Homo sapiens: one gene and its partners. The protein of the gene in region 4 purifies or fractionates together with the protein of the main gene of each other region. This does not show direct contact. Each region holds a gene or a part of one and is shown on either strand. Other genes may lie near its edges.

Region 1 (4,193 bases), on a different chromosome or scaffold from region 4:
TGGCGGGCGCCTGTAGTCCCAGCTACTTGGGAGGCTGAGGCAGGAGAATGGTGTGAACCCAGGAGGCAGAGCTTGCAGTGAGCCGAGATTGTGCCACTGCACTCCAGCCTGGGTGACAGAGCAAGACTCCATCTCAAAAATAAATAAATTAATTAATTAATTAAAAAAAAAACCTTAAATACTAGGGTCTTTCCCAGCAGCACTTTCTCTTTTAGTTCCTAGGCAAGATTTTTCTTCTGTTGACTTGGATAATAACTAGAGTATTGTGGTTGGCCATAATTTTGAGTTTAGGCAAAGTTTGCTTTGTTTCATGGTCACGGAGCTTGTGTACAGGGATAGCCCACCCTCCTCTGCAAAGAACAGGGCTGGTCTCAGATTCAGCACATCCTTTAACTGCTCATGCCAGCTGGTCTCATTGTCTGTTGTGAAAACCAAGTGGGGTCATGGATGAGAGCTGCTGAGCAGGACCTAACACTCTAAGTACTCTGGCAGCAGTGGCTGCTGTAAAGGCAGTTAGAGGAGGCTTTGGGGGTCTGTAAAGTGTCTGTTGGCCCACATTAGGGCCTATCTTCTTTTTATTCCATGCTGACTTGCAGTTTGCTCTCAGACTCTCATTCTGGTCCTCCAGGGCAGCTGTGCAGGTCGAGTTTTGGGCCTCTGCAGGAGTACCAGGATGAGGGCAGCCCGAGAGGGATTTCTTTTTGTTTTTTGTTTTTTTTTTTTTTTTGAGATGGAGTCTCACTCTATCGCCCAGGCTGGAGTGCAGTGGCATGATCTTGGCTCACTGCAACCTCCGCCTCCTGGGTTCAAGCGATTCTCCTGCGTCAGCCTCCTGAGTGGCTGGGATAACAGGCACATGCCACCATACCTGGCTAATTTTTGTATTTTTAGTAGAGACGGGGTTTCACCATATTGGTCAGGCTGGTCTCAAACTCCTGACCTTGTGATCTGCCTGCCTCAGCCTCCCAAAGTGCTGGGATTACAGGCGTGAGCCACCGCGCCTGGCCCCGAGATGGACTTCTAAGAGCCTGGTGCCTCCTCTCGCTCCTGGCACCTCTCCTCTTCCTGAATTCCTCCCTGCCGAGCTCTGCAGATCTGGATGCTGCTTCCTCACCCAGCTGTGCAGTGTGAACGTGGTACAGGACATCTTGATCTGCTCAGGATCCTGACTTTTGTCTTATGGGCAATCTTGCTTCCTGAGGCAGAAGGATCATTTGAGCCCAGGAGTTCAAGACCAGCCTGGGTAACATAGTGAGACCTCATCTCTCCAAAAAATTCAAAACATGAGGCAAGAAGATCACTTGAGCTCAAGAGGTTGAGGCTGCAACGGGCTCTGATAGCGCTACTGCACTCCCGCCTCGATGACAGAGACCCTGCCTCAAAAAAATAAATAAATAAATAAATAATTTTTAAAACCTGCAAATCTTTAACAGCCATTGAGCCTATGACACCCTATGGGCATTTCCTGTCATGGGTGCTGGTACAGGTCTGACCTTGATGACAGCCTGTCTTCCCTGGGGAAGGACCCAGTTCCACAACTGTTGCGGTCTGTGCTTCTTGCCACAAAGGTAACAGAGTAGAACTGGGGTTGTCCCTTGGCCTGCCCTTGGAAGGCTAGGAGGTTCTCTGTGTACAAGTGACCCAGGTCCCTGAAGGAAGCACTTCATGACCCTATGAAGAGGGCTTCTGCCTGGCACCCACTCCATCCCATCCTCAGTCACACTTGATTGGAGTACATTTCAGAACAAGCCTCCTGCTTATCCCCTCCTTCTGGCTGAATGGGCAGTCGGCAGTCTTCATTCAGCCAGGCCTGGTTAGAAATCCCCTTGACTGTGTGTTTCTGTATGGAATAGATGGCCTACTGCCAGCATATTGGGGTGGAGTTCATGTTCATCAATGACCTGGAGCAGTGCCAGTGGATCCGGCAGAAGTTTGAGACCCCTGGGATCATGCAGTTCACAAATGAGGAGAAACGGACCCTGCTGGCCAGGCTTGTGCGGTCCACCAGGTATGGGTCTGGCCCTGGGCCATGGGGCAGACATTCCCAGGGAAGCAGTGACCCTGTCTGTGTTGATCGGGCCTGTGTGCAGCCTGTTGGCCGAGGTGAGAGGGGGTTTGGGGTGGTACAGGCAAAGCTCCATCTGCACATGTGTGAAGAGACACCAGACAAGTAGAGTCAGCCTTCAGAGCAACCTCCGCCTCCTGAATTCAAGTGATTCTCTTGCCTCAGCCTCCTGAGTAGCAGGGATTACAGAGGCACACCACCACGGCTGGCTAATTTTTATATTTTTAGTAGAGATGAGGTTTCACCGTGTTGGCCAGGCTGGTCTCGAACTCCTGACCTCAGCTGATCTGCCCACCTCGGCCTCCCAAGGTGCTGGGATTACAGGTGTGAGCCTCCATGCCTGGCCAGAATCCCCTCTTTTTGGTCAGGAAGAGTGACATTGCCCTTCAAGGTGGCTTGGTTCCCTGTCCAGGTTTGAGGAGTTCCTACAGCGGAAGTGGTCCTCTGAGAAGCGCTTTGGTCTAGAAGGCTGCGAGGTACTGATCCCTGCCCTCAAGACCATCATTGACAAGTCTAGTGAGAATGGCGTGGACTACGTGATCATGGGCATGCCACACAGGTACAGCCAAGGGCGCGCCCAACCTGGTTTCTCACCATCCCTGTGGGCTGTGTAGGAGGCACCAGGTAAAGGCACTGAGAGAGCAGCTGTTTCCTCCTTGAGTGCCAGTTGTGAGTCTGGGCTCATCTGGTACCTGAGGGTGTATTGCTTTGCAGGGGATTCTCACATTGCCTGCCTCTGGAGGACTGCAAAGTCATGGTCACCTCCAAAGCCACATGTAGTTTCAGACTGGCATTTGGCCTTACAGTGCATCTTTATGAAAATTAAACCCAAGTTCCCTTGTTGGGGTCTAACCTGGAGGGAAGGCTGCTTCCTGACATTGAAGGGGAGGCCAAGACTGTGAAAATAGGGAAGGTGTGGGGAGGGAGAAGGGTAAGGAAGCCTCAGGCCCATGGCATTGCTGCATCTTCTATCTTTCTGCTGCCCACTGTGGCCTTGATTGCCCAGCACGGAGAGGCTCGGTTCCCACATTAGCTCCAGTTTACAGCTATCCTTGGGCTGCAAACCGAGGAGGTGCCGTGTCCTGGGGGGAGGGGGAGGGGGGGATTGTAACACCCTCATCTGCCATCTGGAAACCATGACCTCAGGCTCTGCTCACCCTACTCGCCCATACGTTCCAGAGGGCGGCTGAACGTGCTTGCAAATGTCATCAGGAAGGAGCTGGAACAGATCTTCTGTCAATTCGATTCAAAGCTGGAGGCAGCTGATGAGGTGAGGCACCTGCATAGAGACACATCCAGCATAGCCCCAACTTACACAAGACCCCTGGCTCCACTTCTTTCTTAGAATGACTTACGGGGGGTTGGTTCTTCTGTACCATTTGTGATTTGCCTTCCTTGTTGGGAGAATTTTAGTGTTGGGACAAAGGTGGCCAGTGGCCCACCTCCTGGTCAGAGGTCCAGCAGCCCCACTCTGAGTGCAGGGGTGTGTCCCCTCTGGCTGAGGGACGTTCTCCTTATGCCCTGGATGGGAATGATCCTGGGAAAAGGCCTCCATATCCTTCTGCGTTGGGTTCCTGGGAGTAGAAATCCCATATAAGGCTGGGCATGGTGGCTCACATCCGTAACCCCAACACTTTGGGAGGCTGAGGCAGGCGGATCACGTGAGGTCGAGAGTTTGAGACCAGCCTGACCAACATGGAGAAACCCCATCTCTACTAAAAATACAAAATTAGCCGGGCGTGGTGGCGCATGCCTGTAATCCCAGCTACTCGGGAGGCTGAGGCAGGAGAATCGCTTGAACCCAGAAAGTGGAGGTTGCAGTGAGCCGAGATCGCGCCATTGCACTCCAACCTGGGCAACAAGAGCGAAACTCCATCTCAAAAAAAAAAAAAAAATTCCCGTATAAAAGGGCTCTTTTGGAGACTGAGCATCTCCTTGGCCAGGGTGCAAATTCACTGTTTACCCCATCAGGGCTCCGGAGATGTGAAGTACCACCTGGGCATGTATCACCGCAGGATCAATCGTGTCACCGACAGGAACATTACCTTGTCCTTGGTGGCCAACCCTTCCCACCTTGAGGCCGCTGACCCCGTGGTGATGGGCAAGACCAAAGCCGAACAGTTTTACT
Region 2 (3,500 bases), on a different chromosome or scaffold from region 4:
ACTTTGGGAGGCTGAGGTGGGCGGATCACCTGAGGTCAAGAGTTCGAGACAAGCCTGGCCAATGTGGAGAAACCCCATCTCTACTAAAAATACAAAAATTAGCTGGGCGTGGTGGTGGGCGCTTGTCATCCCAGCTACTCGGGAGGCTGAGGCAGGAGAATCACTTGAACCCCAGAGGGGGAGGTTGCAGTGAGCCAAGATCATGCCACTGCACTCCAGCCTGGGTGACAAGAGTGAAACTCCGTCTCCGTCTCAAAAAAAAAAAAAAAAGTCTTTTATACTCCATCTCAGCATTCTAAGCACCGCATCATGAAATACCCCTCAGTTGGGGTGTAGGGTAAAGAGGTCCCAAGTTAGGAAGGGGCACGTGCACATGTCCTTAGTTCTCTCCGGCGTGCTTTGAAATGGAAGCAAGGTGGCAGACCTTTGAAGTTTTTGGGTTTCTTTTATGGTACCATGTTTCTCACCAGATGCAGCTTCCTGCAGGTCTAAGGCCATTATTCAAAACAACAAAAGCTCATCCTGTTTTGGCATAATGGAATTTGAATACACTGTAATAAAGTCTATTCTCAGTCTGCACAAGAGGAAACAAAATTGGTACCTTGATTTTTTTTTTTTTGTAGGGAATAAACTGGTTAAAAATGGATGTGTGTGTTTTTTAAACACAATCCTATTGCTCTTTTTCCTAAATTCTTGTTTGGGCCTCTGAGTCTCCTTCACGACCAAAAGCAGACAAGACAGTTACAGTCCAAGGGTCCCTGCCTTGCACAGGATTAGGATATTTCTGGCCTCCTAAGAGTTCACGAATTACCATATTGGGTCAAAACCAGGGCTCAGTGAACCAACTAGACATTCTGGTCATCCACCCAAAAGATCAGGATTATGTCTGTAAAATATCTATAATGGTGCTATCATTGTGACTTTGCTGAAAACAACTCCAAAACGACTCATATTTTGTTTCTATCACCTCTTAATGGAACAGATTCCAGAAGCTTTCTATTGCTGCTTAGAACAAACATCTCTATACACTATCAAAGGGGCTTGCTCTAAATTTGGTCAAGTTCCCTGATGAGCTGATCCTTGAGCACCGTGCTCCCAGCCTTCATGTGCCATCATGGGCCGGCCTCCTGAGTGTGTCCTCCCCTAAGGTGACCCACATCTCTGCCCCCCGGGTGTCCCTATCCCTGCTCTCCAGTGTAGCCTGCCCTTATTTTCACAGTCAGATTGGCCACTGTCTTAGTTTCCTATTGCCCTTGTGACAAGTTACACATACTTAGTGGCTTAAAACAACACTTTTTTTTTTTGAGAGTCTCGCTCCGTTGTCCGGGCTGGAGAGCAGTGGTGAGATCACAGTTCACTGCAGCCTTGAACTCCTGGGCTCAAGTGATCCTCCCACCTCAGCCTCCTGAGTAGCTGGGACTACAGGTGTGCGCCATCCTGTCTGGCTAATTTTTAAATTTTTTGTAGAGACAAAGGTTTCATCATGTTGCCCAGGCTGATCTTGGACTCCTGGGTTCAAGCAATCCTCCTGCCTTGGCCTCCCAAAGTGCTGAGATTACAGGCACAAGCCACCATGCCCAATTTTTTTTTTTTAAGGCAAGAAATAAATTTTATTGAAGGATTTTTCACCATCCATAGAGATTATCATATGATTGTTTTTCTTAGAATTTTTAATGCATACATTTTTTGGATTTTCTAACTTCAAATTCCCTAATTTCTTCCATTTCTGAAATAAACCGTACTTGATTAAAGTGCATGTTTTATTTTTTAATTTTTATTTAAGTTCTGGGATACATGTGCAGAATATGCAGGTTTGTTACATAGGTATCCATGTGTCATGCTGGTTTGCTGCACCTACCAACCCGTCACCTAGGTTTTAAGCCCCGCATGCATTAGCTATTTGTCCTGATGCTCTCCCTCCCCTCGCTCCCCGGCTCTGACAGGCGCTGGTGTGTGATGTTCCCCTCCCTGTGTCCATGTGTTCTCACTATTCAACTCCCACTTATGACAACATGCGGTGTTTGGTTTTCTGTTGCTGTGTTAGTTTGCTGAGGATGATGCCAGCCAAAATTTTTTATCTTACTGGTCAGAAGTCTATAATGGGTCAGCAGAGCTGTGCTTCTTCAGGATGCTCTAGAGGAGAATCCTTTTCCTTGCCTTTTCCAGCACCTAGAGGCTGCCCGCATTCCTTGGCTCATGGCCACATCACTCTGACCTCTGCTTCCATCATCCATCTCTTCCTCTCACTCTGACCTTCCTGCCTCCCCTTTACAAAGGTCTTTGTGATTACATGAGGCACACCCAGGTAATCCAGGATATTCTCTCCACCCTCAAGCCCTTAACTTAATCACATCTACAAATCCCTTTTGCTACATAAGGCCTGGGGATTAGGATGTGGACATATTTGGGGGGTTATTACTCAGCTGACCATACCATACAACATTTTCTAGGAAAAACCATAGGACATATTTTTTACTTAGCTACAGGCAACTTCCTGAAGACCCCCAGCAGCAGTCTCAGTTGGCTACTCCATCTCTTTCCTGGGCTGAAGCCACCTGGTTAGGACTCATAGCCCAGTAAACACATATGGTATCACCTTGTACCCACTCTCAGAGCACAGAAACCACCTGGTACAAAAGATGATTCCTATGACAAACACATGTATATCTCAACTTACATTTTGCCTGCTGAGGGACAAATTCCTGTAAGAAAACTCCAAGGGCCCAACCAAATTCCAGCAGAAAAATGTCATGACCTGGAACTTTAAGTAGAACCTCTTTGAAGAGGTTGCCCTTAAAGCGAACCAGGTCACAAAAGCTCTGGCCTGGCTTTAGAATTTAGAACTTTTGAATGACACACATGAGAATAACCAAGTTAGCTGTATGGATGGCTATGAGGGGTGCACACAGCCCGTTCACCAACTGAGGAATGGAGAACTCGAAGGGAGGAACGGAGACTCGGCCAAGCCTCAGCACTCACAGCGGCAGGGTGGATGAGTTCTAATAAGGGTAGTTTCCTGTGACAGTCCGGAATCTGGAACTAGGCATCAGGTGAGAGTGCCCTGGAGTGGAGTGGGCTGGGGGAAGAGGATGGGGCTTGCTGGTGGTGTAGGTGTGGGTGTGGCAGCCAGGTCTCCAGTGGCTGCAGGATCCTGCCCTCAGCCCAAATGGCTCCTGCATGAAAAGCTGCGGTGGATCTAAGTGGCAGCTAGGAGTCAAGGCAACTAGCTTCCTCCGAAGCGAGGCAAGACAAGGCACAGCCGAGAAGCCACTCAACCTCTGTTCCCAATGAATCCATTTCCATGTCCCTGCTTCGCTGTACGACACCCCACACCCTGATGTGCATCTTGTGAAAAATCAAGATGAAAATAAAAGGTCAGGAGAAAACTCTGTGGAGACTGTTGTCAATGTAGTCAAACTGACTCTGATATAGACACCTTCCGCATTCTGCACTTACTCATGCAATTTCATTTACTTTTTAGAGAGAAAGGACATTTTCAC
Region 3 (4,672 bases), on a different chromosome or scaffold from region 4:
CTTCTCTCTGGCCTCCCCCACTGCAGAGTCCCTCAAATGTTCCTGGACTCATCGAATTTCTCTAGAGCAGGGAGTCTTGGACACATGCTCATCTCAGTAGATGCCGAGTGCCCAGTGCTGTGCCTCATCATGCTAGAAATTCCCTTGATGTCAGCATAAAAGGAAGCCTGGAGCCCTGGGTTGGGAGTCCAGACCCCCAGGTCGCACTGGGGATTGTCCCACTTGCTAGCTGGGATCCTGGCTAAGCCAATCAGTCCTCCCTGCGTCCAAAAGTGGCTGAGTGAATTAAATGGGAATGTGTGCAGACGTGCTTTAGCGTTAACTGGGTAAAAGGCGTGGTTACTGGATGAATGAATGAGGGAATGAATGAATGAAACGTTCCCCTCTCCCTCTCCCTCTCCCAGCTGATCTTCTCCTGGCGCTGCACCGAGGCGGAGGGACAGCGCTGGCATGAGAACCACTTCTGTTGCCAGGACTGCGCCGGGCCTCTGGGCGGGGGACGTTATGCCCTGCCTGGGGGAAGCCCCTGCTGCCCCAGCTGCTTCGAGAACCGCTACTCGGATGCAGGCTCGAGCTGGGCCGGGGCACTGGAAGGGCAGGCATTCCTTGGTAAGGGAGAGGATGCAGAGCAAAGCGGGAGGGAGCTTGGGCTGGGCTGTGGGGGTTCTCCCGGGCTGGGACCCTCGCCCCGGTCCCACGCCGTCCCGTCCCTCCAGGAGCGCCCCCACCGCACCCCCCAGACCCAAGCCTCGGGGCCCGCAGCTCTCACCGCGCATCCCTGGCCGGAGCGTTCCAAGGGCCGCCCGAACCCACCCCGCGCCGCGGTCGGGGTTGCGGCGCCAGACTCCCTCCCAGGCGCGGGAGGCGGACGCCCTCTGGTGGAGGCGGGGGACCCTGGCGAGGACTCTCGGCGGCGGCGGCGGCGCGCACGGCCCAGGGGCTGGGCGGGGCGGGAGGCTGGGCCTCACCCCCACTAGCTGCGGTGTAGGTCCAGCTCCGCGGCTCTGAGACCAGCGTTTCCGACCCGGCCCGGAACAGGGGAGACTGGACTCGACCGAACTGAAGGAAGGGACCAAACCTCGGTGAACTCTGCAACCCTCTCCCGAACACTCCTCGCTGCTGCCGGCGGTTCCAGCCTGCAAACTCAGAGGGGGCTGCCTGGATCCAGTCCCCAGCAGGAGAACCGACCTGGGGACAAAGCGGAGGCACCCAAAGGGCAGGAGCAATGCCGCCTGGAGACTATTCGTGATCCCAAGGACACCCCTTTCTCCACCTGCTCCTCCTCCTCTGACTCGGAACCTGAAGGATTTTTCTTAGGCGAGCGCCTTCCCCAGTCCTGGAAGACCCCCGGAAGCCTCCAAGCAGAGGACAGCAACGCCTCTAAGACGCACTGCACCATGTGCTAGTGGCGCAGCTCAGAGAGGGGATGTGAGTGGGAGGAAAGGGGTCTGTAAAGCGGGAGAACAAGGCTAGCCTCCCCCTAACAATCCTAGACTGAGACGCAGTCAGGCGCACGCCCGCAAGAGGCGGCGAGGTGACAAGTTTGGAGTGCGCCCCCTTCAGTACTGCGCGTTCTAAGACTTTTGGCGGAGACTTTCTTGGCAAAACCCATTCCCCAAAGCTACGCTTCCCCTGCTGAGATAGCCCCTACCCCCACCTCCACAGGCTGGGACAGCCCCGTCCCCACCATCCTCCTCCCAAGCCAATTAAATGATCACAGCACGCGTGACAGTTACCGGCTGGAGAGCCGGAGGTGGGACCGGGAGCAGGGGACCGTAGAACCGGGCCGCGCTCCTCCCCTCCTAGAGTTCGTGGAGGCGCAGCAGAGGGCCGTCCCTCTTCCGGATGTCGGACTAAGCGAACAGCGCCCCCACTGCCGGCCGGTAGCAGCCGGAAGTGCCAGACCGGAGGTGCGTCATTCACCGGCGACGCCGATACGGTTCCTCCACCGAGGCCCATGCGAAGCTTTCCACTATGGCTTCCAGCACTGTCCCGGTGAGCGCTGCTGGCTCGGCTAATGAAACTCCCGAAATACCGGACAACGTGGGAGATTGGCTTCGGGGCGTCTACCGCTTTGCCACTGATAGGAATGACTTCCGGAGGTAACCGAGCCCGAGGAACTTGGTCCTTTTCTGGCCCTTAAATCCGTATTTCCCCTTTCTTGCGAGGCTGGCGCCTCAGGGTTTTTTGTTTTTGTTTTTTAACATTACCAGCATTGTGGCGTCTTCGTAGCTCTGGCTGTGCCTCACTGAGATCCCTGGCCAGGAGAGTTCCCGTGTGGCAAAAGCGATCTTTCTGTCATGTGGCTGTATCTGTAATGTCACCCTGATCAAGGGAAGAAGTGCTAGCACGTAAACAGGCTTTTTCGGCCCTGGACTAGTGCTTTAGCTGGGCTTTGCGTTTGATCTTACATTTCTTTTTTGTTTTTTTTTTTTTTTTGAGACGGAGTCTCACTCTGTTGCCCAGGCTGGAGTGCAGTGGCGCGATCTCGGCTCACTGCAAGCTCCGCCTCCCGGGTTCACGCCATTCTCCTGCCTCAGCCTCCCGAGTAGCTGGGACTACGGCCGCCCGCCACCACGCCCTGCTAATTTTTTGTATTTTTAGTAGAGACGGGGTTTCACCGTGTTATCCAGGATGGTCTCGATCTCCTGACCTCGTGATCCGCCCGCCTCGGCCTCCCAAAGTGCTGGGATTACAGGCGTGAGCCACCACGCCCGGCCTTTTTTTTTTTTTTTTTTTTTTTTTTTGAGACGGAGTCTCACTCTGTCGCCCAGGCTGGAGTGCAGAGGCGCAATCTCGGCTCACTGCCCCTTCTGCCTCCCGGGTTCAAGCGATTCTCCTGCCTCAGCCTCCCCAGTAGCTGGGATTACAAGCGCGCGCCACCACGCCCAGCTAATTTTTGTATTTTTAGTAGAGACGGGGTTTCACCATCTTGGGCAGGCTGGTCTCAAACTCCTGACTTCTCGATCCACCCGACTCTGCCTCCCAAAGTGCTGGGATTACAGGCGTGAGCCACCGCGCCCGGCCACATTTATTTCTTTTTGAGACAGCCTCGCTCTGTCGCCCAGGCTGGAGTGTAGTGGCGGACCTCAGCTCACTGCAGCCTCCGCCTCCCGGGTTCAAGCGATTTTCCTGCCTCAGCCTCCCCAGTAGCTGGGATTACAGGCGCGCACCACCACGCCCAGCTAATTTTTGTATTTTTAGTAGAGACGGGGTTTCACCATGTTGGCCAGGCTGGTCTCGAGCTCCTGACTTCGTGATCCGCCTGCCTTGGCCTTCCAAAGTGCTGGGATTACAGGCGTGAACCACCGCGCCCAGCCTGACCTTACACTTACTAGGCACAAAAATGAACTCCAAATTCCCACGTGGGTCTTGAGCAACCTGCCGTCACAACCACGTATCAACGCCTCGGGAAGGTGGTGATGGAAGCCTTTCCCCCCAGTACATTTCGTTAACTGTACAACTGACTCAGTGACCACAGGGTTAATAAAACACATTGTTTTTCCAGGAACTTGATACTAAATTTGGGACTCTTTGCTGCGGGAGTTTGGCTGGCCAGGAACTTGAGTGACATTGACCTCATGGCACCTCAGCCAGGGGTGTAGCCAAGTAGGTAAGCACTGAACTACACCCATGCGTGTCTTAGGAGACCTAGAGACTGGGTGAAGCAATGTTTTCTGTCAAGTATTCATGAAATGTACAAAAGAATGTGATGTAAAACCCTTAACTATTCCTAGTTAAATGTGTTTTCAGATGTTGAAAGGGATTTAAGTATCTCTTACCAGTTTCCCTCCCATACTTTTACAGTTCTAATGCCACCTGTCGTCTTATCATCTGATTGCAGACAAATGGAATCCTGTGCTGAACCCGAATCTTCCAAAAAACAGCCTACAATCTGTGACCACCACAAGATGTGCCCTGATGGCAGCTGAAGTTTGATTCAGATGGGCACTTTTCTTCCCCTTCCCTGCCTAGTTTCCTTTTGTTCCTTGAGTCCACGCAGAATTCCATTCTCTGGTCAGCAGACAGGCTTAAGCTAAAGTATTGCCTCTATTCTGTAAAGTTCTGTACATAGTTCCCAAGCTTCTGCAGGGGGTGATTTTTGCTCTTGTCCTGAGAAATAACAGTGCTGTTTTAAAAAACATTTGAAATAAATACCGCACACAAAGGCAGTCATTTTATTCTTTTAATAAGAAACTTTTGCTTACAAAAACAAGGTGTAAAAAGATTTACAAAAATCATAAAAACATGATTTATATTTCACACTTGAGAGACAAAAACAAGCCCCAAAACATGGATTTTAATGGAGGTGGTTTGCTTCATTTTAAAAGGGAAAAAAAAAAAAGGAAGCTGTAACCATACATTGATGTTAACCTAGCATGAAGTTTATTCTTGAAGAATTTACATTGTTGAGCAATATTAGGGGAAGAAGCCATTTGGTGTTGCATAGCATTTTAGTGCACCAGATGGGTTTTCCAGACACCAGGGAGGCATCATTGCTGGAATAGTGAGGTTTGGTGGCAGAAAGAGGGCAGTGATGTGTAGGGGGAGGCAAAGTGAAGTAAGCCTGGGCAGTGGTCACTAAAGTGACACTGCTGAGGCAGCTGCTTCCTTCAGAAGGAAATGTTTTGTGACCCTAAAATTCATGGTAGTGCTACTGTCCAGGGTTTGG
Region 4 (4,193 bases):
CCTGTGATGGAGTGTAATTCAGGGTAAATATTAGGTAGTACAGATCTAAGCCACGATCTCCAACCAGCATTATCAGTAAAAAAGCTAATGTTTTTACCTCTCTGTCTGTATCCTGTGTCTTATCTCTCAGTTGATTCTGAGCCCAGATGTTGGGACAAGGATATGACAAAATATCACCCCCAAGACCCAACAAATAAAGAGAACACTAATAGGCAGAGAGCTATTAATACTTTATGCTACAACGGTAGACTCTAGTCATGATCCCTTGATTTGGTTTAGGGTTGAAATTAACATACTAATCGGAATAACAGCAGAAGTTATCTTCTCAATAATAAGGAAATAAAATCAAACGGAGTAATATTTGCTTAGCACTTGCTTTTAAAGTGTTCCATAAAGTATCTCATCTGACTACAACAGCAATCCATTTCTCTGCAGCCTAAAAACAGATCACTTAATTCATTCTCAGGTATTTTTATTAAATGACCACAAGGGTAGATGGCTCTATAGTAACTTCCCAACATAAAAAAGTCTATGTAGAGAAGGTCTGGTCCATCTTAAAATGCAATCTAGAGAAGCATATTAACAAATAACCACAGCGATTAAATCTTCAGTTTCCTGTTCATTCACAGTCCAAAGACAGTTTGCAACTAGGCAGTAAACCCTCCATGACCTATTCTCTTTTCCTCCTTTCTTCTCTGATCTTGGGTCTTCCACATTCTTCCTAATTCCCTTTCATTCCAAACACTGTCTTCTTCCACAAGTCAAATGGCAAAATGCACTCACAAAAGTAAACTGGCTGGTCTACCTTTTTAAACCACCCATTACATTTTCTTATTATGAATTTCATTTTGACAGAATGATGTTTTATAATTTATTAAGTACAACATAAACTAATGCCTTCTTAACTATATGACAAAGTATTTGATCATGATCTATTTAATCACAAAAACTTTGAAACTTAGCATGACAAAGACAGCAACTTGATGAATAGTAAGTAGATATCTCCCCGGGAACATCAGATGTGGTAATCCAGCATAGAGGAAAGAATATGGACTCTGGAGCAAGAACAGAGTTGAAATGCCATCTCTTTCATTTCACAAATGCAAGGCCTTAGATAAATTAACTTCTCTAAGCCTCTAGTTCCTCAACTGTAATGTACATATAGTATCACTCATTTTTCAGAGCTGTTGTGTGAGATTTAAATGACATAATGTACATAAGCTTTAGCATGGTTCCTGTCATATTAGGACTTAGTCAATTAAAACTCCTATTACTACTATCACTAGAATTCCTAGCTAGGAACTCAAAATAGGGTAAATATTTCATTCAACATAACTACCAAAATAAGCTCGAATTTTGCCAAACGATGTTAAGTTTTAAGCCAGGTCACTTGTGCAAATAACCTTTGCTCTGTATCAGCTCTTACAGGCTTCAGGATACCCTCTTGGGAAATATTTACAAGAGGTTAACTCAGCTGTATTCCTTCTGGAAAATATCTACCAAAGCTTCCGGCAGATGTTAAATAATACTTTTTTGTTTTGTTTTGTTTTTTGAGACACAGTCTCGCCCTGTCGTCCAGCCTGGAGTACAATGACGCAATCTCAGCTCACTGCAACCTCTGCCTCCCAGGCTCAAAGCAATCCTCCCGCCTCAGCCTCCCCAGTAGCTGAAACCACAGGCCTGTGCCACCACACCAGGCTAACTTTCTTTGTATTTTTGTAGAGATGGGGTCTCACCATCTTACCCAGGCTGGTCTTGAATTCCTGGGCTCAAGTGATTTGCCTGCCTTGGCCTCCCAAAGTGCTGGGATTATGGGGTGTGAGTCACCATGCCCGACGTTAATATACTGCTTTTTATTAAAATGGCATTTGTAAGTGACATTATAAGCAAGTAGACTAAACAATTAGTGGCGTTCTTAATCATTCTTTTGACCTGAACATTTATAACCTCCGTAAAAACTGCCATTGAGCAGTTCTGACTAATGCAAACCACAATGAGGTTGGAGCCAAAGTTATAACTGGGAAAGAGGTTAGCAGTGTGGAAGAATGAAAGTTAACATGGTATTTTTTCTTCTCTTTTTCGTAAGACCACAAGAGCCTTAAAAAAAAAAAAAACTGAAAAAAATCCAAAACCAAGACGTAAAAGTGTCACATATGTAATTGACATTTACTATGATTTTTAAGGATCTAAAATTGCACTTAGAAGCAAAGTCAAAAGAAAAACTGTACATGGGTAACATGCACTTAAGGAAAAAGGGAGGATCCAAGAGTAAACTGTCACTTCAATACTCTGCTCAGCAACTTCAAATAATGAGAACATATGTTCCGGGATAGAAGTAATTGGAGCCGGCCAGACGTGGTGGCTCATGCCTGTAATCCTAGCACTTTGAGAGTCTGAGGTGGGTGGATCACTAGGTCAGGGGTTCGAGACCAGCCTGGCCAAGATGGTGAAACCCCATCTCTACTAAAAATACAAAACTTAGCTGGGCACAGTGGCAGGCTCTGTAATCCCAGCTACTCCGGAGGCTGAGGCAGGAGAATCGCTTGAACCCGGGAGGCAGGAAGTTGCAGTGAGCTGAGATCGCGCCACTTCACTCTAGCCTGGGAGACAGAGCAAGACTCCATAGCAAAAAAAAAAAAAAGAAAAGAAAAAGAAGTAATTGGTGCCAACTTCATAGGAGACCATGTGATAAGTAAACAGCAGGTTTTGTTTGGTCAGCCCTCTGAAATGTCCACATTCCTCTGGACTGTGTCATCCCTTTTCTATTGTCATTCAGTCTCCAAACTCCTGTGGCATTAATTTAGTTACATAGTTTTAAAGTGTGATTAAACTTTAATGGTGTCACCTAATGAACTTCTAAAACTCTCACACACATCATTTCCTCCCTATTCTCATTGCCATCATCTTAGTTTAATTCTTCATTATTTCTCGCCTATTGTGTTACAACAGCCTCCTCTAACTGATCTCCTCTAACTGATCTATGTCCATCCTTACCGTTCTCCAATCCATTCTTAACACTGTAGCTGGAGTGACTTCTCTCAAACCCAAACCCAATCTGATCATGTCTCTTCCCAGCTTAATTCCTTCAAGGGTTCTCTATCACCAAGCCCCTTCAGCTGCTTCATTTTTCTTTATATTTATCACTACCTGACATACTATATTAGTTGTTTGTTCACTGTCTCCACTCCAGCTAGAATATAAGTTCCATAGGGCAGAGTTTTTGTTCACTGCTATATTTTATAAGCATGAATGAATGCATGAACGAATGGACTGATAACCCACAAGCCAAAGACCTCCATGACCTGCCACTGCCCTCCTTTCATTTTATTCTCACCTCTACCAATACTAAATCACCTAGTTATGTAAATACGATATGCACTTTCATGGCCCCTTGCTTTGTCATATGCTGTTCCCTTTGCCTGGAATATAAACTCTCAAAATACCATCCACATTTTAAAATCTTCTCCAGAAAGCTTCCTCTGACCACCCCCACCCTCCCACCCCCATATAGAGTAAGTCAGTCTTTCCTTTGTGCTACATTTGTACCTGTATCTACAGTGGCTCTAATCAAACTGCACTGTGTCTCTCACTTCCTAGATTGTGAACTCTTTGAGGCTGAAGACTACTTATTCATCTCTTTACCTCCAATGCCTAGGACAGGACCTTCATAAAGCAACTACTCTATAAATGTTGAAACATATGCATGACTATTCTGTAACAGGAATGAAAATATGGCATTTCAAGAAGTCACTACTCCAGGCCATGTGATATAACCAACCATGTGATAAAACAACCATGTGATAAAACAATTACAAGCAATGTTATCATCCAAAGTAATAAAAGGGAAGGAATAATACACAAATCACAAAATTATTCCAAAATAATTGACATATAGGCATACTCACACCTTATTAGATATATACTGTGGTTCCTTCTTCCTCTATCATTTATCTTCCCTTTAGGCTGGATTCTGTAGCTGGCAACTGCAGGCCCAGCTAAGTAGGAAGTAGAAGGGAGACTTGGGTTCCTCATGATTATCTATCAAGTATATCACCCTCTGTGGAAGCTTTTGATGTGTCATCTAATACAAGTTTCTGTGTTCCCTCATATTTTGATGAAAATCTCAAAGTACCAGTACAGGACTAGATTTTACCACTAGTCGTCTAACCCCGAACCAAAGACCAGGGCTTCCC
Region 5 (3,793 bases), on a different chromosome or scaffold from region 4:
GAGGGCTTCACAGCGGGAGGCTCAGGCTGGGCAGCCCCACCAGGCCCAGGCAGCCCCGCGTAATGGCTACTGCCACTCGGCACCACTGTGCACCCTTGGGGGCCTGGGAGGGCTGCTGACTCCTGACTTCAGTGAGGAGGTGGGGGCAGCCCCAGGCCGGCAGAGGTGGGTCGTGGAGCCAGGCCCTCCTTCCCAGCAGGACACAGTGGCCATGGGGGAGCCAGGGCTGCCTCTGCCACCAGGCCTCAGCACCTCACTCCCTTAAAGGACTATGACAGTGACGGGGTAGGGGGAACCCCGACAGAGAGGGCTAGACCCCTAGGGCCACCCCGCCTCCCGTTTGCTTGGGATCCTGTAACCGTGGAGTCTCGGTGCAAGGGCCTCCCAGGCACCGGGGCTTCAGGCCTAAGCAGAAGCTCAACCCAGGGCCTTCCTACAGGCCCAATCCCGCGGCTGCCTGAGCCCGGCAGGGCGCCCTGACTGTGGCACTCACCATCCAGGTTGTTCAGGGACATGACGACGTCCAGGTCGGCACCCAGGATTTTGCCCAGCTGGTTGACGAGAGCAGAGTCGTTGGCTGGGTACACAGCCACGTGGTCCCCAGATTCATACCTGGAGGGAGATGTGAGGCTCGGGAGGGGCGGAAGGCTGGCCCTGCCCCAGGTCAGGAGGCCCAGAGTGAGGGTTCAGGGGGTGACAGTGGCAGCTGGTACCTGATTTTGGAGTCCGAGATGTCCAATTCCAGGTGCATGAGGTGGCGCTCGGTTCCCTGGTTCAGCTTCCGGTTGGTGGTGACTGCAGCCAGGAACGGATTCTTGGCATCAAAGGGGCTGGGTGGGGAGGAGAGAAGCACAGTGAGCGGCCGGGGCTTTGATCTGAGTCTCCGTCTCCAAGGACGCTTCTGGTTGCACAAAGCACAGGGAATCTCAGAGATCTCCATGAGGAAATCTCACCGGTTACATCAAGGGCTCTCCCAGCCTGGTCCAATGCAGTTCTCTTTTTTTTTTTTGAGACAGAGTTTCGCTCTGCCACCCAGGCTGGAGTGCAGCGGCGCGATCTCGGCTCACTGCAACCTCTGCCTCCCAGGTTCAAGCAATTCTCCTGCCTCAGCCTCCTGAGCAGCTGGAATTACAGGCATTCGCCACCATGCCTGGTTAACTTTTATATTTTTACTAGAGACGGGGTTTCACCATGTTGGCCAGGCTGGTCTTGAACTCCTGACCTCAGGTGATTCACCCACCTCGGCCTCCCAGAGTGCTGGGATTAGAGCTGTGAGCCACCTCGCCCAGCCCTAATGCAGTTCTCTCTATAGTCCCACCACATGGGCAGAGCTGGGTCATCAGTGTCTGTTTACAGATGTGGAAACTGAGGCTGGCCCCTAAAAGAACTGTGAGGCCCAAGCTGACGGTGCCACAGGCTGGAAGGTGGCTGGTCCCCAAATGAGGAGCACAGCTCCCCCACCCCCACACGTCCTGGACTACACCGTGGACAAGAGAGAAACTTGCACTCCGGAAAGCCACCGACATGCAGGGCTTCTCGCTCCAGCCAGGCTGGGGCAGGCCTACAGAAAGCAGGGCAGCTGGTCTTGGATGCAGTGGCACGAGGACTTCCCTGGGTGGCTCGGGCAGGAATCTGGGCAGCAACCAGGGGCCATCAAGGGCACAGAGAGGAACGCCAGGTTTCTCCCCCAAGTCTATCTATGGAGATAGATTCTAAGAAAATGAGCCCTTCTGCCAAAGAGGATCCTAGCCACAGAGGCCAATGCACTGTCCTAGTCGAGAAGTGGGATGTGCCCCGCTGCCCTGGGCAGTGCAGAGTAAGGTGGCTAAGTGAGCTCAGTACAAACTGGGCGAGTGCCAGTCTCCTGGGGCCGGGCCGTGGACAGGTCGTGGACACTCACACCCACTCGGGGCACGGGGTCTGGTGAGAAGGGCCCTGTGGGGATATGGGGATACACGGCAGACTGAGCCTGGGGTGCACCAGTGGCCATAGAGCCGTCTGCCCCAAGCCACGCTCCCTCCACTCACGGCTTCTGGTTCTCGTAGCTCTTCAGCCGGCCCATCTCCCCCATGTACACCTTGGCCGCATCTATGTCGGTGTGGACCACAAGCTCGTACTGGCGAATGCTGGAAAGGGGAGACCAAGGGTGAGGCCGGGAAGCGGCAGGGGTCAGTCCCGAGAGGGAGGGGTTGGACTACAGGGGAGACCGTGCATGGCCTTTGGGGTGAGGTCCCAGGTACATACGACAAGAAGCAGGGGAGCCCCTGCTGCAGATGCACAAGGAGGGCAGGCGAGGGAGCAAGGAGGGAGGCGGCGTGGAGCTGCCGGGGGCCAGACGCCCAGAAGCCGGGGCAGGGCTGGGCAGGCTTCCATCTGGGAGAAGGTAAGGAAGCCCGGGCAGCACCCAGGGGCCATCAAGGGCACAGAGAGGAACGTTATGTTTTTGGCCAAGTCTGTGGAGGCAGATTTTAAGGAAATGAGCCCTTTTGCCAAAGTTGAACCTAGCCACAGAGCCCGACGCGATGTGTCCTTGTCGAGAGGTGGGATGCACCCCGCTGCCCCAGGGCAGTGCAGAGCAACGTGGCAGAGTGAGTCCTTGGCTGGGACCAAGGTCCCTCCTCGACCCTATGACGGAGTGTCTTCTAACCTTGCTGCGACCCACTGCCAGCCCTTGTTCCAGGGTGGCTGCCCTCGGCACAGGACCCGCCCAGGCCACCCACCGCACCTGCGGGCACTTGCTCACCTGGACTCCTCGCCAGTGGCTTCCACCCCAAAGTGTTCACACACGGCCGGCCAGAACTGCTCTCGCCAGGTGATGAAGTCCTCCTCCAAGCTGGGCCGAGGAGAGGAGAGGGGGAGCGGCTCAGGGGAGGCCCATGTGGCAACGGTACCTGGTGCCAGGCACGCCCCGACCCCACCCCATCCCCAAAGCTCAGGACTGTGCACCCTGGGGCACCCAGCGACATAAACCCAGAGCATCAGGAAGGCTCCAGGGAGTTGGGCAAGCCGAAAAGCAAAACTGGCAGGGGCAGGGCAGAGGCAGGAGAGCCCCTTCCCTCTGTGTTGGAGGTGCGTGTCGCTGAGTCTCAGCTGACACAATGGTGTGCGCGCCCCTCACGTTCCACGGCCCCTGCCTAAGCCCGCCGCGCTGATCATGGTGGCAGGGTGGGCACTCACTTCCCATCGTCGTCGCCCAACCCCAGCTCAAAGATGCGCTGGGCGCCGAGCTGCTCCAGCCGCTTGTCCACGTACTTGCCCATGGCATTGAAGTGCTCGTAGGTCTTGTTCCCAAGACCAAACACCTGCGTGGACACAGGGGCCGCTCTGAGGCCTGGCCCTCGACCTGACCAGTGGGAGGGGCCATGGGGGCAGGGCGGGAGGCCCCACAGCACTGGCTGAGCTGCTGGCAACACCTGCAGGCCTCCGTTCCACCAGGCGCCTCGCACTGCAAGGAACACTGGGCCACTGAAGAGGCTTCATCTGGTTGACCTGCAGCCCACAGCCTGCCCCGTCCACTGCCAGCCTCAACCCACAGGGAAGCGGGGCCAGCCCACCCTCCCCACCGGGCTGGGGCTCCAGCTCTCCGAGGCCAGGCAGGTCTCAGTCGTCCAGCCAGACCTTTCTTGCCTTTAGTCTCCAGCACCCAATGCCCCCTGGAGCCGACTGGGGCTGGGGACAGGGAGGGGACATTCTCGTAGTGCTGGGGTCTGGGGCAGAGGAGAGGGTCTCACAAGTGGCCTGCCCTGGCTGCTGAGGACAGGGTGGGGGTCTGGAGGGCTGCCTTTCAGATACA
Region 6 (4,193 bases), on a different chromosome or scaffold from region 4:
AGGGTGGTTTCGAGGAGGCAGTAGGTTAATAGAGTAAGCAGTGCTTGGCCCGTTGTTGAATTACTGTTACCTATCGCCGTTACTGTTGGTCTCAAACATTGTGGTACGTGGTCAAGAATGTTGTGAGGCCACACATTCTAACAGTCATGTTTGCATTTTGATTAGAATGGTGGTTTGGGCCACATGAACATCGCACTCTTGTCAGACTTAACTAAGCAGATTTCCCGAGACTACGGTGTGCTGTTAGAAGGTTCTGGTCTTGCACTAAGGTAAGATCCTGTTTCTGATGAACTTAAGATTATTTTTCATGTTTAGTATCATTCTGCTTCTTAGGGGATTTATGTAGACCTTGGTAAAGCATTTTTAAAACCAGAAGATCCTGGCTGGGCATGGTGGCTCATGCCTGTAATCGTAGCACTTTGGGAGGCCAAGGCGGGAAGATCACTTGAGTTCAGAAGTTCAAGACCAGCCTGGGCAACATAGTGAGACCTCATCCCTATTATATTAAAAAGAATTAAAATTTATAATAATCAATCCTTAATTTTAGTCTTTAATAAACACTGATGAAATGCCTCCTGCAAGGGTTGGCGGTCTCTCAGAAATGCTGAGACATGCATGTCCCCTCCACCACCTTGGGTCTCTTTCTGAAGAAGGCTGGCTGCGTCTTGAGGCCACACTGCTCCATACTCCCTAACTATGTGGGAGCCACTTCCATGGGGACACACACCTGACATTGAAGCCATCAGACTCTGCAGAAGGGGGGACTAGCAGGGTAAGAGGTAGTCTCTTGGAATGGTGACCATCTTCAGCCCTGGAACCAAACAATCCTTGGTTTGAGTTTTTCTTTTTTTTAACTCAGCTACTTAATAGCTGTGTGACTTTGGGCAACTGATTTGATTTAACCTTGTTGAGCCCCAGTTTTCCCATAACTAAAATGAGGTGGTACGTCACAGGTGGGTGTGAGGATTAAATAGTGACACAGCTAGAGTTTTTAGCATAGTTACTGGCAGCAGTTGTTAGGATTTCTGCCCCAGAACATCATTTCTATCTGTATTCAGTCCCTTATTAAACCTTTATTCCTTTGAGTGTGAAAAGCTTTCAGTCCTCAGCAGCCCCACATTCAAACATAACCTTCCTGGGAGGGATGAGAACTTGGGTCTTAGAATTGGCATCTTGAAGTCTGCTGAGAATAGGAGTGAAGGAGGGATAGGGCAGAACTTGACCTCCAGGAAGGAAGAGAGGGGATCCCCCTTTGATGTGCTGTGCCTCACAGTTTTGCTGGGGGCTGGTCAGCTTAAAGCCAGCTCACCTGGCCGGGCGCGGTGGCTCAGGCCTGTAATGCCAGCACTTTGGGAGGCCGAGGCAGGTGGATCACGAGGTCAAGAGATCGAGACCATCCTGGTCAACATGGTGAAACCCCGTCTCTACTAAAAATACAAAAAATTAGCTGGGCGTGGTGGTGGGCGCCTGTAGTCCCAGCTACTCGGGAGGCTGAGGCAGGAGAATGGCGTGAACCTGGGAGGTGGAGCTTGCAGTGAGCTGAGATCGCACCACTGCACTCCAGCCTGGGCGACAGAGCAAGACTCTGTCTCAAAAGCAAACAAACAAACAAACAAACAAAGCCAGCTCACCTGCCTGTCTTGTAGGTGACCTCTGGCCTGCTCTTTCTTGGGTTACACCTTGGGTTTTAGCGCTGAGTGGCATCTTAGAGTTTGGGCCTTTTTTTCCTCTCTTTTTTTTTTTTTCTTTTCTTTTCGAGACGGTGTCTTGCTTTATCGCCCAGGCTGGAGTGCAGTGGCGTGATCTCGGCTCACTGCAACCTCCACCTCCCGGGTTCAAGCAGTTCTCCTGCCTCAGCCTCCCGAGTAGCTGGGATTACAGGCACACGCCACCACGCCCGGCCAATTTTTGTATTCTTAGTAGAGATGGGGTTTCATCGTGTTGGCCAGGCTGGTCTCAAAACTCTTGACTTCGTGATCTGCCTGCCTCGGCCTCTCAAAAGTGCTGGGATTACAGGCATGAGCCACCGCACCTGGCAGACCATTTTTTTTTTTTTAAACTTTAAAGAGATTATCAAACGAATGCCTAGGTCTTTCAGAATTGTCAATGGCCAGAGAAAGGGTACTGGCTATTTTTCTCCTACGGTCCCTTTCCCTATGAGAACTCACTAATTTTGCAGTTACCTCTGTACCCGTTTTAATATTGAGATTAACAAGAGAGAGAAGCTGAGTCTGGCTTATAAGATAAAGACTTTTGGGAGTCTATGGGCCCTGCTCTGTCCCAGCTCTGCCTCACCTTCTATTGGTGGACTTCAGCTGGCTGCACCCTCTGGGAACAGTTTCACCTCAAACCCCAGGCTCCCAGTGCCTGACCCAGGGAGGGAGAAGCATCTTTTATCCTGAGTTTTCTCTAACCTGCCTTTTCCATGAGTGATTGATACCTGAAATTTCCACATCCTTTTAAGACAGACTGTTAAAACCTGTAGGTTAAATAACCGGACACAGTGACACACACCTATAGTCACGCTACTTGGGAGTCTGAGGTGGGAGGATCAGTTGAGCCAGAAGTTCGAGGCTGCAGCCTGCTGTGATCACACCTGAGAAGAGCACTGCACTCCAGCGTGGGCAATACAGTGAGACCCTATATTTAAACCAAACAACCAAAAAAACTTCTAGGCTAAACATATCTGCATCTGTCACAGTAACACCAACACAGAAGATAAACACAGACCACTGTGGTAGCGTGGTTCATCTCATTACATGCTGCTACATGATTAAAAGTGATGGGCATGGTTTTCTGTTTTGCATAGACTTAGAGCCTGTACATTCTTTCTATGAAGATTTTTCCCGTGGGATTTCCCCCCATTTACCCAATAATTCATTCATAATAAACAGTTGTTGAACCTAGATAAAATACACCTCTGTCTCTTCCCATTTGCCTATAAGTTTCTTGCCAAGATGTGATACAGCAGCTCAAAGAATGCTTGCCAAGTCACTAATAGTCTTTGCTCTCTCTAGTTCAGTGACTTTCCGATACTGTGTAACATTCAGGGCACTATGTGAACTTGTAAGTGTGACCATACTGCATGTTTTATGGTGACCTGGTCCAGTACTGCCTTTGTTAAAGCATCTGTCATCAGTAAGAGATGATAAGTTTTTTGCACAACAGTGAAAACCCCACCTTTAAGCATATGATTACGCTTAATAAATATTTTATTAAAAGGAGAATTAAAGACCTAAAAGGGAAGAAGTTAGACTGTTCTAGTTCTGGTACTGTTGAGGCACTGATGAGGATAAATGATCATGCAGAGGTCTCTTCATAATTGACCCCAATGGAGTCATCAAGCATTTGAGCGTCAACGATCTCCCAGTGGGCCGAAGCGTGGAAGAAACCCTCCGCTTGGTGAAGGCGTTCCAGTATGTAGAAACACATGGAGAAGTCTGCCCAGCGAACTGGACACCGGATTCTCCTACGGTAGGTTTTTTTCCCCAAAAGCAGTGAGGTCCATGTTCTCTCAGCCTCGAGAGCTATTGACCTGAAATATCCACAAAAGGGAGCCCACTCTTGAAGCAAGCGTGCAGATGATATGCAAATGGGTGAAGCTGCTGTGGGGTAGAGGGGGTGGGGTGGGGAGCCAGGAACCAATTATCAGAGACAGGCAGGCCTTTTTTTTTTTTTTTGAGACGGAGTCTTGCTCTCGCCCAGGCTGGAGTGCAGTGGCGCTCTCTCAGCTCACTGCAAGCTCCGCCTCCTGGGTTCACGCCATTGTCCTGCCTCAGCCTCCTGAGTAGCTGGGACTACAGGGCGCCCACCACCACGGCTAATTTTTTGAATTTTAGTAGAGACGGGGTTTCACCGTGTTAGCCAGGATGGTCTGGATCTCCTGACCTCGTGATCCACCCGCCTTGGCCTCCCAAAGTGCTGGGATTACCGGCGTGAGCCACCGTGCCCGGCCTAGAGACAGGCAGGCCTTAATGAAACTTTCATCTTTATGTTTTAAAGGAAATCTTTAAAAGTTTAAAGAACTTTAGGTTAAAAATTGGGAGATTGCCACTCACTTTTGGGACTATTATTATGGTAAAGTCACAGTTACCTAATTAAGCTTTTGTATTTTCAGATCAAGCCAAGTCCAGCTGCTTCCAAAGAGTACTTTCAGAAGGTAAATCAGTAGATCACCCATGTGTATCTGCACC
Region 7 (4,193 bases), on a different chromosome or scaffold from region 4:
AGGCAGTAAGACCCAAGTTCACACCTGGAATCCATCACCTACTAACTATATGAATTTACTTATAAATCACTTAAATTGCCTACCAAATGAATAAAACACACATTTTAAACATATTTAAATAGAACTAAAGTTGAGATTAAAACAGAAGTTGAAGCTCCATATGCTTTCTGCACCCAGTGGATTATCCTGGTTGATCCTTAGGGTTTGCACACATCCATTTTAAAACTCATTTGGAGCTTTCTCGGCCTTGTTCTTAAGTTATTTCACCCCCAAATTTCTCAAGTTGGCCATGAGTCCACCTGCTTTAGAATCACCTGGGTTGCATGCTGGTCACTCACTCCCACTCCAGACCCCCAGAATCAGGCTTTCTGAGGTAGACTCCAGTAACTTGCATTGTAAATAAGCCTCACAGGTGATTCTTGTGTACTTCAAAGATGGAGAATCACTGCCCCAGACATTCTCCCAGGAAATCTCACCTACTCTCCCAACTTCAATAAAATCTGTGCTGTGACCTCCAACCTCTATGTCTAGAGTTGCTCACTGATAGGATTTCCCTCTGTTTTTTGTTAGAAAGGTCAGGACCAGTGAGAGCACAGGACATGTAGCATGAGTCACACATAAAACTAATTTCACTTTGCCTACATTTTCCTTTTATTTTCTCTTCCCCCTGATTTTCTCACTTACTTATAAAACATCATATACAAACAGTATATTATTTGTATTTTCTGTCTTGATGCAAGGTATCTAGCAGACACCTCAATTTCAACAAGTCTAAAACCGAATTCATCATCTCTCTCTCTAAACCTATTTCTCCTCCTCCACTTCCTAGCACGTGCTTCAATGTGTAGCCTCTAGGCCAGGTGTGGTGGCTCAAACCTGTAATCTCAGCACTTTGGGAGGCTGAGGCAGAAGGATCGCTTTGAGACCCCATTTCTCTAAGAAAAAAAGTGTGTGTGTGTGTGTGTGTGTATAAAATATGATGCTACGGACTATATATAGAGGCCATATACTTATTATATATATATATTATACATATAAGGACTATATATATATGGCATATATATATAAACACATGGCCAGGCACAGTGGCTCACGTCTGTAATCCCAACACTTTGGGAGGCCAAGGTGAGTGAATCACTTGAGCTCAAGAGCTAGAGACCAGCCTGGGCAACAGGGCAAAACCCTGTCTCTACAAAAAATACAAAAATTAGCCAGATGTGATAGCACCAGTCTATAGTCCCAGCTACTTTCAGGGCTGAGGCTGGAAGATCCCTTGAGCCCAGGAGGTTGAGGCAGCAGTGAGCTGTGTTCGTGCCACTCTACTCCAGCCTGGGCAACAAAGTGAGACCCCCATCTCAAAAAAATAAAAATAAAAAACAAAGTATAGCCTCTAGTTCAGCCTGCCTGGGTCCCACTTCTAACATCTTTCTGTTGTGCTCAAAAGAGGGAAGACTCTGAGACAAAACTGAGCAAATGGCTGAACAGCAGAGTGGTCTAGAGTGTGGGCTTTAAGTCAGGCCACACTTACATCCAGGCTCTGCAGCCACTAGCTGTGTGACCCTGGGCAAGTCACTTTACCTCTCTAAGCATCAACCTCTTCAATCAAAGAATGGTGATGAATAACAACACTCACTTCCCTGGGTAGTTGTGAGGATGAAATAAGAGAATACAAAGAGCTTAGTGTGGGGCCAGGCACATGGTACTCAGATGGCTTCTTTTTTTTATTTAATGGCATTACTCCCCACATAATTCTCAGGTTAAAACCTGGAAGCAGGCTGGGTGTGGTGGCTCATGCCTGTAATCCCAGCACTTTGGGAGGCCGAGGCAGGTGGATCACCTGAGGTCAGGAGTTCAAGACTAGCCTGACCAATTTGGTAAAACCCTGTCTCGACTAAAAATATAAAAATTAGCTAGGTGTGGCGGCATGAGCCTGTAGTTCCAGCTACTCAGGAGGCTGAGACAGGAGAATTGCTTGAACCCGGGAGGTGGAGGTTGCAGTGAGCCTAGATCGCACCACTGCATTTCCGCCTGGGTGACAGAGCAAGAACCGCCTCAAAAAAAAAAAAATCTGGAAGCAGTCTTTCATGCTACCTATCCTGGAAGTCACCAAGTTTTATCAATTCAGTTTCCTAAAATTATCTCAAATCAGTCTCCTCTCCCCTGCACAATTATATCTTAGTTCAGACCCTGTCAACACTCATCTAATTTACTATAAATAGGCCCTAACTGGTTATACTGCAGCCAGCTAGCCCCATCTCCAAATACATAACAAATTGTTATTCTAAAATAAAAATGTGATGTCACCTTTCCTCCTGCCTCACTCCTATAACATATCCACTCTTCAAATCTGATAGACTGGATTAAGAAAACGTGGCACATATACACCATGGAATACTATACAGGCATAAAAAAGGATGAGTTCATGTCCTTTGCAGGGACATGGATGAAGCTGGAAACCATCATTCTGAGCAAACTATCACAAGGACAGAAAACCAAATACCGCATGATCTCACTCACAGGTGGGAACTGAACAATGAGAACACTTGGACACAGGGTGGGGAACATCATACACTGGGGCCTGTCGTGGGGTGGGGGGCAGGGGTAGGGATAGCATTGAGAGAAATACCTAATGTAAATGACGGGTTGATGGGTGCAGCAGGCCAGCATGGCACATGTATACCTATGTAACGAGCCTGCATGTTGTGCACATGTACCCTAGAACTTAAATAAAAATAACAAAAACAAAAAAATCCCTACAGTATATAGTACAAAGTCCAAATTTCTTAGCATGTCACAGAAAGTCCTTAGTATCATATCATACCACAGCCCCTTAATTCTCATGTTCCAGCAGTTCTAAATTCCATGTAATTCCCCAAGCATGCTGCTTCTTCACACCCAGTGTGCTTGCTTCCACTACCTGGAGCACCCTCCCTTCATTCTGCTGGGCCAACTCCCAGCTCCTCCAGGCTCTGCCTTACAGCCACAGGCTCACTTCTCATGTCTGGCTAGTGAGCCCATCAGCTAGGCAGTGTATCTATGAGTACTGGCAGGCTGCAGTGAAGTATTAATGAGCTTATTAAAATAATCGTAGCTCCTTCTGGAAAGAAAACGCATTTTCCTATTTGCCAGTCTGCCCATTCCTTACTTTTACTGCATTTTGTCACATCTGGCCCACTTCTTTGAGTAATCTGGAGTTGAGACTTCTCACTAACTTATTCCTATTTTATGAACTTGCTAGATTTTTCTCCACTTAGTACCCTGTGCTTGTCTGAGACAGGTGAACAGTCAGAGTAGCAATCCTTCATCTCGGGGAGACACTTCTCCCCTGTGAGGCCAATTGGCTCAAAGGTCAGAACCGCAATCCTGCTCTCCATGTCTCATCTTCTTCTTTTTTCTTTTTGAGCTGGAGTTTCATTCTTGCTGCCCAGGCTTGAATACAATGGCGCAATCTCAGCTCACTGTAACCTCCGCCTCCCGGATTCAAGTGATTCTCTTGCGTCAGCCTCCCGAGTAGCTGCAATTACAAGTGTGTACCACCATGCCCAGCTAATTTTTTGTATTTTTAGTAGAGACAGGGTTTCACCATGTTGGCCAGGCTGGTCTCAAACTCCCGACCTCAAGTGATCTGCCCACCTCAGCCTCCCAGAGGTTTGGGATTCCAGGCATGACCCACCGCGCCTGGCCCTCAAAGTTCCATCTTCTAACCCAGTGGTCTCCCAAGTAGTCTTCCCCTAAGGGAAGCGCAGAATGATCCACTGAGGGTGGAAGTAAATATCAGAACTTTTATCCATGTTAATGTTTACAAAAACATGACGTTCCGTTAACGGTTACTATATGGACTGACTACGAGACATTCCCTGGGCCATGTTAAGTGGTCATGTGTTGAAGACAGGACACAGCAGGTATCCTGATGGGGTTGTGGGAAAGTTTCCATCACACAGAGAGGGCCTCAGCACCACTCTTCATTCATTCAGTCGTTTTCACTTTACTGCAACCTAATGCCTGAATGAGGTTATTGAGGTTCTAAAGCTTAAACGCTGAGGCCTCAAGCATTTAGAGTGGGGAGGACAAAGACGCAGTGGAGGAGACGAGGACTTCCAGGGTGAAGCTGGTGGACAGGAGGAAAACTACGAGAAGATGACAACGTAGAAGCTGAGCAAAGAAAGGAGAAAGTGGTCAGCTGGATCGAATGC

What was found.
Region 1: the proteins of AGPS (region 4) and OGDH fractionate together in Homo sapiens (co-fractionation; one large-scale study listed by BioGRID). This does not show direct contact.
Region 2: the proteins of AGPS (region 4) and EMC8 fractionate together in Homo sapiens (co-fractionation; one large-scale study listed by BioGRID). This does not show direct contact.
Region 3: the proteins of AGPS (region 4) and TOMM6 fractionate together in Homo sapiens (co-fractionation; one large-scale study listed by BioGRID). This does not show direct contact.
Region 5: the proteins of AGPS (region 4) and POR fractionate together in Homo sapiens (co-fractionation; one large-scale study listed by BioGRID). This does not show direct contact.
Region 6: the proteins of AGPS (region 4) and PRDX3 fractionate together in Homo sapiens (co-fractionation; one large-scale study listed by BioGRID). This does not show direct contact.
Region 7: the proteins of AGPS (region 4) and SCCPDH fractionate together in Homo sapiens (co-fractionation; one large-scale study listed by BioGRID). This does not show direct contact.

The regions. Positions count from the first base shown.
Region 1 is NC_000007.14:44,671,934-44,676,126, forward strand, and holds part of OGDH (2-oxoglutarate dehydrogenase complex component E1 isoform 1 precursor), read left to right. Parts: intron 1-1,853; coding exon 1,854-2,008; intron 2,009-2,477; coding exon 2,478-2,624; intron 2,625-3,244; coding exon 3,245-3,335; intron 3,336-4,036; coding exon 4,037-4,193. UniProt on the Homo sapiens protein: 2-oxoglutarate dehydrogenase (E1o) component of the 2-oxoglutarate dehydrogenase complex (OGDHC). Participates in the first step, rate limiting for the overall conversion of 2-oxoglutarate to succinyl-CoA and CO(2) catalyzed by the whole OGDHC.
Region 2 is NC_000016.10:85,789,545-85,793,044, forward strand, and holds part of EMC8 (ER membrane protein complex subunit 8), read right to left. Parts: intron 3,390-3,500; exon of another isoform or gene 2,753-3,389; coding exon of another isoform or gene 2,678-2,752; intron 1-2,677. UniProt on the Homo sapiens protein: Part of the endoplasmic reticulum membrane protein complex (EMC) that enables the energy-independent insertion into endoplasmic reticulum membranes of newly synthesized membrane proteins.
Region 3 is NC_000006.12:41,785,724-41,790,395, forward strand, and holds TOMM6 (mitochondrial import receptor subunit TOM6 homolog), read left to right. Parts: upstream 1-1,970; 5' UTR 1,971-1,974; coding exon 1,975-2,102; intron 2,103-3,508; coding exon 3,509-3,605; 3' UTR 3,606-3,613; intron 3,614-3,807; exon of another isoform or gene 3,808-3,844; 3' UTR 3,845-4,172; downstream 4,173-4,672. Other genes in the region: PRICKLE4 (prickle-like protein 4), read left to right, coding at 405-609, 1,039-1,406.
Region 4 is NC_000002.12:177,395,391-177,399,583, reverse strand, and holds part of AGPS (alkyldihydroxyacetonephosphate synthase, peroxisomal precursor), read right to left. Parts: intron 4,011-4,193; exon of another isoform or gene 3,906-4,010; intron 1-3,905. UniProt on the Homo sapiens protein: Catalyzes the exchange of the acyl chain in acyl-dihydroxyacetonephosphate (acyl-DHAP) for a long chain fatty alcohol, yielding the first ether linked intermediate, i.e. alkyl-dihydroxyacetonephosphate (alkyl-DHAP), in the pathway of ether lipid biosynthesis.
Region 5 is NC_000007.14:75,980,557-75,984,349, reverse strand, and holds part of POR (NADPH--cytochrome P450 reductase), read right to left. Parts: intron 3,303-3,793; coding exon 3,178-3,302; intron 2,834-3,177; coding exon 2,744-2,833; intron 2,127-2,743; coding exon 2,028-2,126; intron 831-2,027; coding exon 714-830; intron 613-713; coding exon 494-612; intron 1-493. UniProt on the Homo sapiens protein: This enzyme is required for electron transfer from NADP to cytochrome P450 in microsomes. It can also provide electron transfer to heme oxygenase and cytochrome B5.
Region 6 is NC_000010.11:119,168,458-119,172,650, reverse strand, and holds part of PRDX3 (thioredoxin-dependent peroxide reductase, mitochondrial isoform a precursor), read left to right. Parts: intron 1-165; coding exon 166-269; intron 270-3,308; coding exon 3,309-3,474; intron 3,475-4,117; coding exon 4,118-4,171; 3' UTR 4,172-4,193. UniProt on the Homo sapiens protein: Thiol-specific peroxidase that catalyzes the reduction of hydrogen peroxide and organic hydroperoxides to water and alcohols, respectively. Plays a role in cell protection against oxidative stress by detoxifying peroxides.
Region 7 is NC_000001.11:246,730,268-246,734,460, reverse strand, and holds part of SCCPDH (saccharopine dehydrogenase-like oxidoreductase), read right to left. Parts: intron 1-4,193.